3 linked regions of the Homo sapiens genome follow. The protein of the gene in region 2 purifies or fractionates together with the protein of the main gene of each other region. This does not show direct contact. Each region holds a gene or a part of one and is shown on either strand. Other genes may lie near its edges. The genes, in order: MARK3, FGF13 and UBE2O.

Region 1 (7,125 bases), on a different chromosome or scaffold from region 2:
TTGATCTTGGGACATTGATGTTTAAATTAGTGCTAGAATTAATCTGTACTTCATGTTTGTTATTGTTAATATTATAAAATAAGGAGTTCTGACTTGTCTCCTGTTTTTTTCTCTAGAAAGAATGTTTTCACATTAATTAGGAGGTAACTTCATATCATTACAGAAAGCTTTTCTAAAATGCCTAATCCTGTCATAATTCTAATTCTATTTTGGCTAAATTTCATTTTTGTCTTGATGTTTTCCCTCTAGGCTGAAAATCTATTGTTAGATGCCGATATGAACATTAAAATAGCAGATTTCGGTTTTAGCAATGAATTTACTGTTGGCGGTAAACTCGACACGTTTTGTGGCAGTCCTCCATACGCAGCACCTGAGCTCTTCCAGGGCAAGAAATATGACGGGCCAGAAGTGGATGTGTGGAGTCTGGGGGTCATTTTATACACACTAGTCAGTGGCTCACTTCCCTTTGATGGGCAAAACCTAAAGGTATAAGAAGCTGCACCCATGTACTTCACTAAACTAAAAGAAGTTTCCTAATATTACATGGCTTAATATTTTTAACATTATATCAGTGCGGGGGGTTTCAGGGGGTTTTTTGTTGTGTTTTGTTAACTAAACCTAAAGGTTGACTTACTCGTTTTCTTTCCTCTGTACCTCTCCAAAGGAACTGAGAGAGAGAGTATTAAGAGGGAAATACAGAATTCCCTTCTACATGTCTACAGACTGTGAAAACCTTCTCAAACGTTTCCTGGTGCTAAATCCAATTAAACGCGGCACTCTAGAGGTAATCATGTAGGTGGAAACAAGCAGTAACTTTGGAGAGTCTTTAGAGTGACCTTAGATCTTTGCTTGATTTGTATGCCATACTGGATATATCCTGCGGCTTTTTAAGCAAGAATTGAAACATTAAAAAATATTTTTTGAGTTTATGCTTTGAACGATAGTCAATGAAATGTTGAAAATAAATTTTTGTAAATATTACGGTTATCAGAATATTTCATTTTACTCTGCTAATGAACAGTTTACCTTTTTTAGCAAATCATGAAGGACAGGTGGATCAATGCAGGGCATGAAGAAGATGAACTCAAACCATTTGTTGAACCAGAGCTAGACATCTCAGACCAAAAAAGAATAGGTAATCACTCCATGCCTGCATGTTCATGTGTTTTTGTCTAAGTAACATATTTCTGTTTTGACTCATGTCTGTGCCTAAAATGTGAATAATGGAAAGTTAAGCACAAGTCATATGAACAGTTTATCTGTTCTGTCATATTTAGGAACGTAACTACCTGCAGTTTCCTATAATGGCACCCAGTAACTCTGAAACAAGTGCCCATTTATGTTACAAAATATATGTAATATGTCATCTTTTAGGTCAAATGAAAATTATTTTACCCTACAAAAGAATGATTTCTGGCCGGGCGTGGTGGCTCACGCCTGTAATCCCAGCACTTTGGGAGGCCAAGGCGGGCAGATCACCTGAGGTCGGGAGGTCGAGGCCAGCCTGACCAACATGGAGAAACCCCATCTCTACTAAAACTACAAAATTAGCCAGGCACGGTGGCTCATGCCTGTAATCCCAGCTACTCGGGAGGCTGAGGCAGGAGAATTGCTTGAATCTGGGAGGTGGAGGTTGCGGTGAGCCAAGATCGCGCCATTGCACTCCAGCCTGGGCAACAAGAGTGAAACTCCGTCTCAAAAAAAAAAAAAAAAAAAAGGATGATTTCTTACCCAAACAAAACACATAAACTGTATTATGCCCTTCTTTTAGATATTATGGTGGGAATGGGATATTCACAAGAAGAAATTCAAGAATCTCTTAGTAAGATGAAATACGATGAAATCACAGCTACATATTTGTTATTGGGGAGAAAATCTTCAGAGGTAAGAGTAATCAGAAAGAGCTGAAATACCCTGTATGTAATTATTAGTTTATATAAACTGTTTTCTTAGTTTTTATCTTTTGAATATTTGTAACATTTGATACATCATTTTTTAGATTTACTTGCAAATAGCAAATCTAAATCCTATGACTATTATAAGCTATTTTAACTTAACCCTTAATGATGGATATTGGCCAGGCGTGGTGGCTCATGCCTGTAATCCCAGCACTTTGGGAGGCCAAGGCGGACAGATCACTTGAGACCAGGAGTTCGAGACCAGACTGGCCAACATAGGGAAACTCTGTCTCTGCTAAAACAAACAAACAAACAAAAAATTAGCTGGGCGTGTTGGCGCTTGCCTGTAATCCCTGCTCCTTGGGAGGCTGAGGCAAGAGAACTGCTTGACCCTGAGAGGCAGAGGTTGCGGTGAGCCAGGATCACGCCACTGCACTCCAGCCTGGGTGACAGAGCGAGACTCTGTCTCAAAAAAAAAAAAAAAAAAAAAAAGATGGATGTTGTCATAAACCTGGTCTTTCATAAATTAACCTGTAGTCATTAATAGCTTAGAAATGACGTAAAGCATCAGATGAAGTAAATACAACATTTAAAGTTATTTGAGAAAGCCTGGAAAGAAAATCATAAATACCTTACCTTTAGTGTCTTTCCAGCCGTCAGAAAACTACTTTTGCTTGAGTTTAGGGTTGTCATTTTTGTACGTTGTGATTCCTCCTCTCTCTGAATGAACGGTTTATGAGAGGTCTGTGTTAATGAAAAGTTTAACTTCCTAATAAGCCATTTGGGTTCGTGTTGTGGTTTGCTCTGTTTTTCTCATTTTCTCTTAGCTGGATGCTAGTGATTCCAGTTCTAGCAGCAATCTTTCACTTGCTAAGGTTAGGCCGAGCAGTGATCTCAACAACAGTACTGGCCAGTCTCCTCACCACAAAGTGCAGAGAAGTGTTTCTTCAAGCCAAAAGCAAAGACGCTACAGTGACCATGGTAAGTTTTGGAGTATCCCAGTGCCTTCTCTTAGAGTCCAGGCAAGAGGTCTCCTAGCACTGGGAAGCATTCTCTTGCTCAGAGCCTGGCTTGATGTCCTTTCTTGGCATTGCTTTCTTTCTTTCTTCTTTTTTTTTTTTTTTTTTTTTTTTTTTTGAGACAGAGTCTCACTCTGTTGCCCAGGCTGGAGTGGAGTGGCACAATTTTGGCTCACTGCAACCTCCACCTCCCAGGTTCAAGCGATTCTCCTGCCTCAGCCTCCTGAATAGCTGGGACTACAGGTGTGTACCACCATGCCTGGCTAAGTTTTGTATTTTTAGTAGAGACGGGGTTTCACCACATTTGGCCAGGCTGGTCTTCAGCTCCTGGCCTTAAGTGATCCACCTGCCTTGGCCTCCCAGAGCGCTGGAATTACAGGCATGAGCCACCGTGCCTGGCCAGCATTTTTTCTTAGTGTTCCTGCAGGTGCTGCCATGATTACATATTACTTCAAGGCTCTTATCTTCTTTATACATGCAGTAGATTTTTGCTGGATAAAGCTTAGTTGAGTGGAAACCTTACCATTTGCCCTTCTAGAACCTCTGCTTTAATCTGTAGTTTTCCTTTTTTTTTTTTTTTTTAAATGGAGATGGGGGTCTCGCTATGTTGCCCAAGCTGGTCTCAAACTCCCAAGTTCAAACTATTCTCTCACCACAGCGTTCTAAAGTGCTAGGATTACAGACGTGAGCCACCATGCCCAGCGCTAGAACTGGGCGCTGTACCGAACTGAATAGAACTGCTAGTCTGTAGTTCTATTCACTCTCTTCACCTCTGCATTGGATTTACTTTGTAGAGTAGCACTGTCCAGTAGAACTTTCTGAGATGATTACAGTTTTGTGTATCTGTGCTGTCCAGTCAAGAAGCTACTGGCCACTTGTGGCTATCAAGTACTTGAACTGAGGAAATGATTTTTACCTTTTTTATTTCTATTTATTTTTTATTATTTTTATTTATTTATTTATTTATTTATTTTTCAGATGGAATCTGGCTCTGTCGCCCAGGCTGGAATGCAGTGGCATGATCTTGGCTCACTGCAACCTCCACCTCCCAGGTCCCAGCAGTTCTCCTGCCTCAGCCTCCTGAGTAGCTGGGATTACAGGCATGCACAACCACACCCGGCTAATTTTTGTATTTTTAATAGAGACAGGGTTTCACCATATTGGCTAGGCTGGTCTTGAACTTGGGAGCTCAAGCAATCCACTCACCTTGGCCTCCAAAAGTGATGGGATTACAGGTGTGAGCCACCGCGCCTGGCCTTATTTATTTGTTTATTTTTTGAGATGGAATTTTGCTCTTGTTACCCAGGCTGGAGTGCAATGGCATGATCTCCGCTCACTGCAACCTCAGCCTCCGAAGTAGCTGGGACTATAGGCACACACCACCACACCTGGCCAATATTGTATTTTTAGTAGAGACGGGATTTCACCATGTTGGCCAGGCTGGTCTAGAACTCCTGACCTCAGGTGATCCACCCACCTTGGCCTCCCAAAGTGCTGGATTACACGTGTGAGTCTGTAATTGGCCTGGCTGATTTTTACCCTTTTAAAATTTTCCTGGCCGGACATGGTGGCTCATGCCTGTAATTCCAGCACCTTGGGAGGCCGAGGCGTGTGGATCACTAGGTCAGGAGTTCGAGACTAGCCTGACCAACGTGGTGAAACCCCATCTCTACTAAAAATAAAAAAATTACCTGGGCATGGTGGTGTGTGCCTGTAATTCCAGCTACTCAGGAGGCTGAGGTAGGAGAATCGCTTGAACCTGGGAGGCAGAGGTTGCAGTGAGCCAAGATCGTGTGACTGCACTCCAGCCTAGTGACAGAGTGAGAGTCCATCTCAAAAAAAAAAAAAAAAATTTGTACTTAAGTGTAATATATAGCCAGTTGTGGCCAGTAACTCTCATAATAGACAGGACAGCCCTGGAGAATATATGGAACCTCAGTTTTGCCTTAATTGGTTTAAATGTTGTACTGTGTCATTCTCATCCATACTCTTGCTGTTAGTGTGGTTAAGCCACTCTCCCTTTTAAACTTCACCTAGAAGCCAGTCCTTTATGAGACATAAGACTCCCAGTGGGTAGGCTTACCAGGCTCTACAGTTGCTCTGCCTTCAAGGCAGCCTGTGTGTCAGAGTCCTGAGGCTAGCGTGTGTGTTTACTTGCCCATAACTATAAATGTTAACATTGCAGATATTTCCTTTAATTCTACTATTCCAGGATTCAGGAACTAAATCTATTTTTTTTTTTTTTTTTGAGATGGAGTTTCACTCTTGTCACCCAGGCTGGAGTGCAATAGCGCGATCTCGGCTCACTGCAACCTCCGCCTCCTGGGTTCTAGCAATTCTCCTGCCTCAGCCTCCCGAGTAGCTGGGACTACAGGCATGCATCACCATGCCCAGCTAATTTTTTTATTTTTAGTAGAGACGGGGTTTCACCACATTTGGCCAGGCTGGTCCCGAACTCCTGAACTCAGGTGATCCATCCACCTCAGCCTCCCAAAGTGCTCGGATTACAGGCATGAGTCACTGCGCTCGGCCTCATTTTATTTCTCTTCTCTGGACATTTTCCATCTTAATACTTTCATCTTGAGATTTGACACTTAGGACTGCACAGGGCATTTTAGGTGTGGACAGCTTTGATTTTGTACTAAAAATGATTACACTTGGCTTGATTTCCATTTCTCTTCCTTCTGTTGCTTGCCTTTCTACATGGTTTAGACTGAAGCAACAGTGTACTAATATCACTAGTAAACCATCTACAGTGCCTGCTATTCTAGGGTGTAACTGAGAGCTCAGAACTCATTCTCACATCAGGATTTGTGCTCCTAGCATTTGTAGGTGACGTGTTGATCTAGGTCTGCCTTTTTTGTGTTCATGTTAGTCACTAACAAGGGGGGTTTCTAGTGCTTATGGACCACATGGCAATTAAATGCCCATATATTGCCCTGAAACCATCTGGTTTAACTTGTCCCTCAATCCTAGAAGAAACCTGACAATGGGATTTTCACATTTCTCTAAGGAATATGTTAGTAAGTTATTCCTTAAGCACATAGATTCCATCCAGATTATTAGTGCCTTTTTCCCCCCAGCTCAATTTTAGAGATAAAAAGAGCTTTAGACATGGTATTGTACACTCACCAAACCTCTGTTTTATCCCTAAATAGACCAAGAGAGATTACCAAGTCTCCCAAGGTTACATAGTAAATGAGAAACACCTGGGGCAGAGCTCAGGCCTGCTGGTCCAAGCCCTGTGTTTTTTCTCCACTGAAGCACCTCATTGGAGTAGCTTTTTCATAATCCTCATCTTTCTTGGAATTTCTGAAGGCAGGCAAGCCTGTATAGCCGGGCTAACTTTCACCTCATCCTCCTGCCTCGTCTCACCTCTCCCTTCCCTTTTCCTTGCCTGTGGATGCTGACCTCTGCATGGGTGCCTGCTTCTCTAAAGCTACGATGTAATCTGTAGCTGTCCTTCCTCGTTTGAGACCCACATGTGAACACCCCATATGTGTGCACTTTTTCTGCGAATGGTGATCATCTGATTTTCAAGGGGTTAGCTTGTTTTTTAAAAAATGAAAAAAAAAATCACTGTTTACTAATCAATGAGTGGTATTGGGGCAATTTGGTAGTTCTCAGAAAAAAAATTAATTTGGATCAATTTCTCACATCTTATACAAGGATGAATTCTAATTGGAGTTAAGATACAAATATAGGGCTGGGCGCAGTGGCTCATGCCTGTAATCCCAGCACTTTGGGAGTCCGAGGCAGGTGGATCACGAGGTCAGGAGATCGAGACCATCCTGGCTAACATGGTGAAACCCTGTCTCTACTAAAAAATAGAAAAAATTAGCCAGGCGTGGTGGTGGGCACCTATAGTCCCAGCTACTCAGGAGGCTGAGGCAGGAGAATGGATGAACCCGGGAGGCGGAGCTTGCAGTGAGCCGAGATCGAGCCACTGCACTCCAGCCTGGGCGACAGAGCGAGACTCCGTCTCAAAAAAAAAAAAAAAAAAGATGTAAATAAAACTCCAGAAATATTGAAAGAAACCTTGGGATTATTTGCTTTGTAACTTGGACTGGTGAAGGTGTTTCTGTCACCCCAAACACCAAACCCATGAAATAAAAGACTTACAAATTTGATTACATAAAAATGAAATTTCTGGCCGGTCGCATAATCCCAGCACTTTGGGAGGCCGAGGTGGGCGGATCACGAGGTCA
Region 2 (3,616 bases):
TGGCTGCCAGACTGCTGTTTTTATGCCACTATAATTGCAGGGCACTTGGCTTTTGAGAATATTGCAGAGCTGAGTAAAAGAATATGGAAATATGGTAAGTTAAAATGCCACAGATTTCACTGTTCTTGCCAATATCCAGCAAATTTTCTAAAATAAAGACTTCTCAAATTCTTACAAGTTTTTAGTTAATTTCCAGAGTTATGAACAAGTTAATTTAGAATTTTCACCTGTGTTCTTATTGCTTTTATGGATGAAAGGGTTTTCAGAAGTTCTTACACTGCAATTTTAGTAATTAACCACAGGAAGAAAATATGCAAACTACACATCTGACAAAGGATTCATAACTGGACTATATAGCAAACTCTGAAAACTCAATGAAAATTTCTTAAAACATCCAATAGAATATAGAGAAAATTCATCAACAATCATTTTGTAAAATAGGATATATGTATCGAAAATAAACACATGAAAAATATAGCTACTTTAAAAAAGTTTGGCAATATATTACAGAACTGAATATGTGATTATTATATAACTCAGAAATGCTTATTAATTTGTCTTAGAGCAATGAAAGCCAATGATCACACAAAATCTTATACATGAATGTTCATAGCAACTTTATTTGTAATAGCCCAAAAGTAGAAAGAACACAAATGTTGTTCAACAGGTGAATAGTTAAACTATGGCACATCTCTACCATGGAATACTACACAGAAATTAAACATATTGCATTACTGATATACACAACAGTTTGGATGCATCTCAAGGGAATTGTGCTGAGTGACAAAAGCCAATCTCTATGTGTTATATACTGTATGATGACATTTATATAACAATTCTGAAATAATAAAATTATAAGGATGAAGAACAGATTAGTGTTTACTAGCTTTTATGGGTGAAAAAGGATGACAGGGAGATGTTTATAAAGGAATAGCACAAGGGATCTTAGTGGTGACGGAACAGTTCCATATCTTGATCATTGTAGTGGTTACCCAAATATACACATGTGGTAAAATTGCATAGACCTACACACATAAACGTGCACGCACACACACACACACATACAAATTAGTGTATGTAAAACTAGAGAAGTCTGAGTAATGTCTGTGGATTATACAGATGCCAATTTCTTGGTTTATATATGATACTGCAGTTATGTAAGTTGATACCACTAGAGGAACTAGATAAAGGGCATATAGCACTTCCCTATACTCTTTGCATCTTCCTTTGAATCTATAAATATTTCAAAATAAAAGTTTTAAAAGATCAGTTGGAATATACACATGCTTATTCCTATAGTAGTGTTACTATATTCAGTTATTAATATATTCTCATAGCTTTCTTCATATGAAGATAAGGTATAGGGAAGAGTCATATCTAGTATTTGGGAAACTGAAAGAAACCCCAGTGGACCCACTTGAGTGTACATCATGGCAGGAAAAAAAAATTGTTTCAGATGTATTATTTTCTGGTACCATAGATAAAGAATAAGGATAATGCAATGGGAACAGTTGAAATATTGGCTTGTTTACTTGCATTTGTATGTTTGTTTTTAAATTTTTACCCTGTGCATTAGTTCATTCTCATGCTTCCATAAAGAAATACCCAAGACTAGGTAATTTATAAAGGAAAGAGTTTTAACTGACTCACAGTTCCGCATGGCTTCGGAGGCCTCAGGAGACTTACAATCATGGTGGAAGGCCCCTCTTCACAGGGTGGCAGGAGAGAGAATGAGTGCCAGCAGGGGAAATGCCAGATGCTTATAAAACCATTGGATCTGTTATAAATCACTATCATGAGAATAGCATGAGGGAAACCACCCCCATGATTCAGTCCTCCACCTGGTCCCACCCCTGACACATGGGGATTATTACAATTCAAGGAGAGATTTGGGTGGGAACACAAAACCAAACCATATCATTCTGACCCTAGTTCCTCCCAAATCTCATGTTCTCACATTTCAAAACACAATCATGCCCTTCCAATAGTCCCCCAAAGTATTAACTCATTCAAACATTAACCCAGAAGTCCAAGTCCAAAGTCTCATCTGAGACAAAGCAAGTCCCTTCCACCTATAAGCCTGTAAAATCTAAAGCAAGTTAGTTATTTCCAAGATACAATGGGGGTACAGGAATTGAGTAAAAATACCCATTCCAAATGGGAGAAGTTGGCCAAAACAAAGGGGCTATAGGCCCATGCAAGTCCAAAATCCAATAGGGCAGTCGTTAAAGCTTAAAGTTCCAAAATGATCTCCTTAGGCTCCATGTCTCACATCTATCCAGGTCACAATGATGCAAGGGGTGGGCTCCCACAGCCTTGGGCAGCTCTTCCCCTGTGGCTTTGCAGGATGCAGCCACCCTCACAGCTCTTTTCATGGGCTGGTGTTGAGTGCCAGTGGCTTTTCCAGGTGCATGGTGCAAGCTATTGGTGGATCTACCATTCTGGGGTCTGGAGGACTATGGCCCTCTTCTCAGAGCTCCACTATACAGTGCCCCAGTGAAGACTCTGTGGGGGAGCTCCAACCCCACATTTCCCTTCTGCACTGCCCTAGCAGAGGTTCTCCCTGAGAGCTCTACCCCTGCAGCAGACTTCTGTCTGGACATCCAGGCATTTCCATACATCCTCTGAAATCTAGGCAGAGGTTCCCAAACCTCAATTCTTGACTTCTGTGCTCCTGCAAGCCCAACACCATGTGTAAGCTGCCAAAGCTTGGGGATTGCACTCTCTGAAACAATGGCCTGAGCTGTATGTTGGCCCCTTTTAGCCACAGCTGAAGCTGAAGCAGCTGGGGACGCAGGGTACCATGTTTCAAGGCTGCAAAGAGCAAGGGGGGGTGCCTGAGGCCTGGCCCACTAAACCATTTTTTTCCTTCAAGGCCTCCTGGCCTATAATGGGAGAGGCTGCAGTGAAGGTCTCTGACATGCCCTAGAGACATTCTCCCCATTGTTTTGGTGATTAATATTTGTAGTGATAGGAATATTCTATATCTTGAAAGGAGTTTCTGTTACATGGTGCACGCATTTGTCAATACACATGAATTGATATACCTAACAGGTTTGTATATGATACAGTATATAATTTTAGCTCCATTTCTCCCCCAAGAAATATAGAAATATTAAACTCTACTTCCTGATATGCATGATAAAGGGTTTAAAGATGAAGTGCATTGATGTCTGTAACTTATTTTGAAATGCAAAAAAATAATTATTTTATAGATAAGAGCATTAATTGATGGATATATTTTCATAATGAAATGTTGGGGGAAATACTTGGAAGTGAATATAATCAACTAACTTGCAACCGTAAGTTGGAGATTGTATCAAATTTGTTAGAGGTGTGGACCAAGCCAAATTAAATTGTAACTATAAGTTTTTTAAAATTTGTGTTGAGCTAAATTGTAAGGTAAACTGAAAGAAGCTGTGTAAAAGAACCAAGGATCATCATGGTAAAGAGAATGAACATGAGGTGTGTGTGTCTGTGCATGCACACATGTGTGTGAGAGAAAAAGAGAGTGAGAAGGGGATAGCTGGGCACAGTGACTCACAATTGGTATCCTCAGGACTTGGGAGGTGGAGGTGGGAGGACCACATGATGCCAGGAGTTCAAGACCCACCTG
Region 3 (7,125 bases), on a different chromosome or scaffold from region 2:
TGACTAATCTAGTTATGAGATTTGAGAACCCAATTATTGACAAAATAATGTAGTGGCAGATTTTTTTTTTTTTTTGAGTTACTGGTTTGTTTATTATTTTTGGGATGGGGTCTCACTGTTACTCAGGTGTCCTTGAATTCCTGGTCTCACACAATCCTCCTGCCTCAGCCTCCCAGGTAGCTGGGACTACAGTAGTGATGGTTTTGAGAAACTTATTTTTTATTTATTTATGTTTTTGAGACGGAGTTTTGCTCTTGTTGCCCAGGCTGGAGTGCAATGGCGCCAGCTCGGCTCACCGCAACCTCTGCCTCCCGGGTTCAAGCGATTCTCCTACCTCAGCCTCCCGAGTAGCTGGGATTACAGGCATACGCCATCACGCCCGGCTAATTTTTTGTATTTTTAGTGGAGACGGGGTTTCTCCGTGGTGGCCAGGCTGTTCTTGAACTCCTGACCTCAGGTGATCCGCCCGCCTCGGCCTCCCAAAGTGCTGGGATTACAGGCAGGAGCCACCGCACCCGCCCGAAACTTATTTTTTTTAATAAGCTGCTACCTATTGAAAATTTTTGTGTGTGAGTTTCTTTTTTAAACAGAGTCTCTCTCTGTCACCCAGGCTGGAGTGCAGTGGCACGATCTCAGCTCATTACAACCTCAACTTCCCGGGTTCAAGTGATTCTTGTGCCTCAGCCTCCCGCATAGCTGGGATTATGGGCATGCGCCATCACACCCAGCTAATTTTTGTATTTTTAGTAGAGACGGCAGTTTGCCATTTTGGCCAGGCTGGTCTTGAACTTCTGGCCTCAAGTGATTCACCGGCCTTGGCCTCCCCAAGTGCTGGAATTACAGGCATAAGCCACAGTGCCTTGCCCCATTGAAATTTTTTAGTAGTATCTATTTAATGTGGAGTGTTTCATAGGGTGTGGCGTATTTTTGTAGTTTTCTCTGTAAATTGGAGGGCAATGAGTAAAGGCTTAATCTTAGTCTCAAGTTTTTAGTGAACAAATTTACAAAGAGAGATGAAGAGACTGGGCAGCAAGTCATGTCCTTTCCCTGCTGCCTTCATGAAAATAGCAACAGAAACAAAGTAAGTTCTTCCATGAAGCTATGGAATTTGTCGTGTTCCTGAGGCTTCCAGCCACCAAAATTAAGCCTCTTAAGGACTCAAAAGGAGCTAGTGGCCAGTGTCTCTTATATGCTTCTTCCTTTCTCCAGTCTTCTGACCTGTTCAGCGAGGTAGCCACTTGAAACTGTCCATCTGGCCATGGATCTCCTTAGAGGAGGCTTGCCCCTTCCCCATCACCAGTCATCCTTTGAATAAAATTTTGTAACAAAGCCAAATGCCAGCAGCCACTTAAACCTTCATGAGCACTGGCTAGACGTGGTGGGTCCTTCTGGTCTCCACCTGTCATGGTTGGGCAGAACAGCCCCCTGCGAGGTAAGGGAGCAGGACTGCTGTCTGTCAGTTCAAGTTCAGCCTTCGTTTCGGAGGCAAAGCGTTTATGCTTTAGCTTTCTTGTGCTTTTTCATCTCTTTTGCATTGTCTTTTGTTTTAAGTTGCCATGACATTCAGGGTTTCACCAGGTTTGAGATATAGTGCCTCTAAATTAGGGCTGTCTGTGATCACCCTGCTTTTATGAAGCTGTGTGTGTGAAACATCCCTGATGACAGGTCCCTCGGGAATTGGCTTTGCAGTTTATTTTTGGCTCCTACGCTGGCCAGCATTTCCATGGGGAAAGCTATTTAGGTGTAGCATCATGGCACGTGAAGTTTGTCTCACTTGTCTGGGTGCTGGGCCCATTAAAAGCAATTGTTCTTAGTGATGTAATGTGAAGAAGTTATATAAGGTTAACCAAGATGCAGGACTAAGTGAATCTAAATTGCGTTTTATTCAGATAGGATCACAGCACTTGTAGACTCTTAACAGCTGTTCTGTGATTTTATTCTTTGTCCCTTGATTTTTCCCCTTCTAGCCCTCGGGCCTCAGTGCCCTGATGGTGCTTCTGTCTGGCTGCTGCCTGACTCAAGGGTACTTTCCCCAGATGAAGGGTGTGTGTTTTGTACTGTGATTGGAAGCCAAAACCCTTGGGTGCTCTTCCTGGCTGTCACCTACTCTGAATGACCTTGACCAAGTCACTGCCTCATTTTCTCCCTCTGCAATGAAATAAGAGGTCTATCTTCCTAACCCCGATATGATCCTGCTCGGATGGAATAACCAGAAGTGTAGCTGGGTCAAGCCTAGGATGGCCACTTGGTTATTAGCAGACAGCATTCTGATGTCTGTCAGAGAGAGCCAGCCCTGTGCCTTCAGAAGATCACTTCCATGAGAAAGAGGGTGATGCTGCACCAAAGAGGCACCTTGGGAAGCAAAAGGTGCACGAGGCGGGTTGTGGGGAAGGTGGTTGTTTCAGGGGCATAGGAATTCCTAATGGCTCGTGTTGCTAGTGACCAGATGGATTATAGGTTTGACTTTATTAAACCTCTTCTAGAAATACTCATGAACTTCCTACCTCTGTTACTTTGTGAGAAATTCAGTAATGCACATTTAAAGTAACCCCGGCCGTCCTCCAGGAGGGGGATGGAATGAATCTGTATGTATGTATGTATGTTTCCAGAGTCTGAAAGGTCTCTTGAAATTCTCAAGACTGGTAATGAGATTATAAATTACAAAGATGATAGAGTATTGCTTTATATTTTAAGGTAATAAGAGCAGTCATGATCCAGGATACTGTTACTGTGTGCCAGGCACTCTTAGTGCTTTAGATGTTTTACTTCACGCTCACAACAACCCTGTGGTGCTATTATTAGCCCCATATTCCAGAGAAGGAAGCTGAGGAACAGAGAGGTTAAGTAAATTGCCCAGTGTCACACTTCTAAGTGGAGGAATCTGAATACAAATTGAACTAAATGTACTTTGTTCTCACCTGAGAATACTTAAGTTCAGGATTCAGAGATCATTACTATACGTGACCGAGTGCCCTGATCCAACATGAATCACAAGCCTTGTGGTTGGCATTAATCATCCCTTCTTTAAACAGTTGAAAGTCTTAGTGTAATAGGAGGTACTACAAGTGAGGAAGGAGAGAGGCACAGGATGTTGGGATAGGTGGAAGTTGTGCCAGTGGGCAGGCAGGAGGGAGGGAGATGATGGGTAGGGAGCAGGACGGGAGGAACACTGCATTCGCACTGGCGGTGTGCTTCTGCAGATTCCACTCTTTTCATTCCCTGACCCCTCAGTCATTCTCAAAATAACTGTCAAAAACACATTGCATTTCTAGAGAACCTTTGACTGCCCCTCAATGTTGAATGAAGCAACCTCTGTAGTCTGATTCATTCCAACACTGAACTGCAGTTCAGTTTTATTCCCCAACTCCACCTCCTAGAGCAAAACAAGTGTGCAGACACTCCACGTAACTGGCATTTCTGTGTTGCCTCAGAAGTGGTCAGCTCCATTAGGAGCTCCAACTTGACCTCCTGTCCGCTCTGCTGCTGTCATCCTTCGGCTGGGAATGCTGAGTCATGAGACAGGTTCAGGAAGGATTCCTTGGAGAGGCTGAGTTCCACCTCAATTTCAGTTTCTGTTCCCTTCAGTTTCCGTGTGTTTTTGCTTTAGGACATTAGAGGCCTCTTTGCACCTTCCCCATCTCTACTTCACTTTTATCCCTGTTTCTCTCTGTTTTGTTTGTTTGGTTTTTTTTTTTGTTTGTTTTTGTTTTTTCATTTTCCTGTTATACTAAGAGGAACTTTTTCTATTTTTTACTACTTAACCCACCATGGGGGCTCATGGAATCCAGTGGAACCTGTTGGGGGCCAGCACTTTTTAAAAGGGTGCAATTGTCGTGTATAACATGAATTGCCAGCACAACAGTCCTGGGCACGTGATCAGTGTCAGCTGCCGCTGGTGGTCGGTCCCCTCAGAGTTGGAGTCAGGGTGGTTTTCTGTGACATGTGGGTTTTCACCCAGGAGGATATGATCTGTGCTCCTATTCTGATGGAAGCTTTTGGAATTTCCTTGCCCAAGGCTTAGCCTGCTTCTGGATGGCGATGGGGAGTTGCTGATTTAAAATGACAATCAAAAGGGGCAAGTTACAATCAGGAACGTCTATAATGTGCTTTCCAGTTTACAAGAGGCTATCACTTTTCTCACTTAATAGGATCTCGGTATTTTTAACTGTAGCTCCTTCCTGAGGCTCCACTTGCCCATGAATGGGTGCCAGTCCTGGAGAAGGTCATGGTCTAAATGCTGCCCATCCACATTTGCAGCTCTTACTGAGCAAGAGTGCCCGTTCGGAATTGCTTCATCTTCTGACATTCCAGCCAGCCACGGGGGGACTCTGTCAGGAGCCACTTGATGTGTGCAGTTATAGCCAGGGAAGAGCAAAATGCTTATTGGAATTTGCTGTAGTTGAGAATAAAATTGAATTGTGTTACTGGATAACTCTCTGGATTTATCTACTCCAAGTTATTTGCCTTTGTTTCATTCGTTAGCTATACTCTGTGATTGAGGATTTAATGTCCTTCAATCCAGGCTGACTGTATTGGATGGATCCTTGGGTCAGCTTTGTCCAGGTCACCCCTAGACACAGGTAGGCTGTGTTCTCCTGAAGCAGTATTGTGAAAAGCACATTTTTATGGTTTAAACATTGCAGTCAGTTGACATACCACTCAGAAGTATTCAGTGGGCAATAAGGATTGGAATGAATGTCCTTTTTGGGTTTAATCTGGTTCTTTGGTTGGGGGATTTTGAGTTGGTTTGCATTTTTAGAGAGGCCACAGCAATATTTAATATTCTGCAGCTAAGTCAAAGGAGTAAGACATTTTTCAGGTCACTTTTGGTTTAAATTGATAGCATAACTATACCTGGGAAACAGTCTGACTATGATAATTGAAAGTAAAAAAAAAAATTAAAACACTGAGTCATGCTTGGAAAAAGAAAAAAAAAAAGGCAGTCAGTCCTACCCAACAATGACATGAATATTCCCAGCTAGCACTGACAGAGAGATTTCCTGCAGGCACCCTTAAAAAGAGAGGCCTTCATTTGCATCCTGCAAGAGAGCTGGTCTTTTCACACTCAGCAGCTCCGATGATGTTCTTCCTCCTCCTTTTAATTCTGGTCCTTTTTGTGGGAGCTCCCTCTGGAAGAGGGCAGTTGAAGATAGATACCTTGACCGGCAGATTCAGCGGACTGTGTGTGTGGTCACCGGACTGTGTGTGTGGTCACCGCTAGTGCAGGTGGGAAGTGTAGACACACAAATACGTCTCCAGGGATTCTGGGAGCCTCAGGGCTTGACATATGCAGTGCTGAAAGCATCCCGGTATTCATGTGCTCTGACTGTTTTATTATTTAAGGGATTCTGAGGGCCCTGAAGGTTGATGACATCATCTTCAAGCCAAGGAAGAAAGCATTTCTCTGGTCCCCCAGTGTGCTTTTGGGTCATCCCAGCACTGTACTGGGGGAAATGGATGTCTGCCTCCATTTCCTCATGACCTGCTCTCGCCTTCAGTCATTTTCTGTCTAACCTCTCACACCACTGAGTGTGACGGCTCCCCTGAAGGTCACAAATGACTAGTGAATTTCTGATCACTGCATTTGCTGACATTTTCTCAGTCCTTGTCCTCATTTTGATCCATCAGCCTTATGCTCTGTCACCCAGGCTGGAATGCAGTGGCGTGATCACACCTTACTGCAGCCTCCGCCTCCTGGGCTCAAGCAGTGCTCCCACCTCAGCCTCCTGTGCAGCTGGAACTACACACTCGGCTTTTTAAAATATTTTTGTAGAAACAGGGTCTCACCATGGTATTGGCCAGGCTGGTCTCGAACTCCTGACCCCAAGTGATCCTCCCACTTCAGCTTCCCAAAGTGTTGGGATTACAGACGTGAGCCACGGTGCCTAGCTGACCACACCCTCTTTGTTTTGTTTTGTTTTGTTTTGCTTTGTTTGTGAGATGGAGTCTCAGTCTGTCGCCCAGGCTGGAGTGCAGTGGTGCAACCTTGGCTCACTGCAACCTCTGCCTTCTGGGTTCTAGCGATTCTCCTGCCTCAGCCTCCCAAGTAGCTGGGATTACAGGCTCCCGCCACCACGTCCGAGTAATATTTGTCTTTTTAGCAGAGACGGGGTTTCACCATATTGGTCAGGCTGGTCTCGAACTCTTGACCTCAGGTGATCCATCCGCCTCAGCTTCCCAAAGTGCTGGGATTACAGGCATGAGCTACCGCGCCTGGCCGACCATGCCCTCTTAACGGTATTTCCTTCCTTGGGGTTCTATTATACCAGACTATACCAAATGTTTCTCTTTTTTGCCTTTTGTCTTCTTCCTCTTACCCATAGATGTGCAGCTTTTCCAAAGACCTCTCTTTTCTTTATCTCTTCCTCCCCAGTTTTTTGGAGTGACCTCCCTGCTTGTAGCTGCATCTGGTACCTGTATTTAGGTGACTTCCACAGTGACATCACATGCCCAGCTGCTTACTTGATAGCTCCATTGTGCCATGTAGACTTTGTGGGTATAAAATCTTGTGATTGTGACTGCCCTTCCCATCCCCAAGTCTGTGGACTTAAAAAAAAAAAAAATGTTCTGACTGGGCACAGTGGCTCACGCCTGTAATCCCAGCATTTTGGGAGGCCGAGGTGGGTGGATCACTTGAGGTCAGGAGTTCGAGACCAGCCTGGCCAACATGGTGAAACCCCATCTCTACTAAAAATGCAAAAATTAGCCATGCGTGGTGGTGGGTGCCTGTGATCCCAGCTACTCGGGAGGCTAGGGCAGGAGAATTGCTTGAACCCAGGAGGCAGAGGTTGCAGTGAGCCGAGATCGTGCCCCGGCACTCCAGCCTGGGCGACAGAGTGAGACTCTTTCTCGAGGAAAAAAATATATATATATATTCCCCAACTTTTTTTGTTTTTGGTTCTGAACCCAAGACCCAACTTTTTAATAGGAAAAAATATTGACCATACCAAAATGTTGAAAGCCAGTAATTGCTAACCCCCAACCATTATGAGTCAGCAGTTGTTAACATCCTGCCATATTTGCCTTATCTGTATGCTTATGTAAATATATTTCCTCCTGAATTATGTCTGGTACTAACTCCTGCTAAGTTAGTGGCAGACATGATAGCACTTCACCCCTAAATAC

The links.
Region 1: the proteins of FGF13 (region 2) and MARK3 purify together in Homo sapiens (co-immunoprecipitation; 2 studies listed by BioGRID and IntAct, with this or other methods). This does not show direct contact.
Region 3: the proteins of FGF13 (region 2) and UBE2O purify together in Homo sapiens (co-immunoprecipitation; 2 studies listed by BioGRID and IntAct, with this or other methods). This does not show direct contact.

The regions. Positions count from the first base shown.
Region 1 is NC_000014.9:103,465,308-103,472,432, forward strand, and holds part of MARK3 (MAP/microtubule affinity-regulating kinase 3), read left to right. Parts: intron 1-249; coding exon 250-486; intron 487-664; coding exon 665-784; intron 785-1,035; coding exon 1,036-1,135; intron 1,136-1,771; coding exon 1,772-1,884; intron 1,885-2,725; coding exon 2,726-2,879; intron 2,880-7,125. UniProt on the Homo sapiens protein: Serine/threonine-protein kinase. Involved in the specific phosphorylation of microtubule-associated proteins for MAP2 and MAP4. Phosphorylates the microtubule-associated protein MAPT/TAU. Phosphorylates CDC25C on 'Ser-216'.
Region 2 is NC_000023.11:138,614,134-138,617,749, forward strand, and holds the end of FGF13 (fibroblast growth factor 13), read right to left. Parts: 3' UTR 594-3,616; downstream 1-593. UniProt on the Homo sapiens protein: Microtubule-binding protein which directly binds tubulin and is involved in both polymerization and stabilization of microtubules.
Region 3 is NC_000017.11:76,443,033-76,450,157, reverse strand, and holds part of UBE2O ((E3-independent) E2 ubiquitin-conjugating enzyme), read left to right. Parts: intron 1-7,125. UniProt on the Homo sapiens protein: E2/E3 hybrid ubiquitin-protein ligase that displays both E2 and E3 ligase activities and mediates monoubiquitination of target proteins. Negatively regulates TRAF6-mediated NF-kappa-B activation independently of its E2 activity.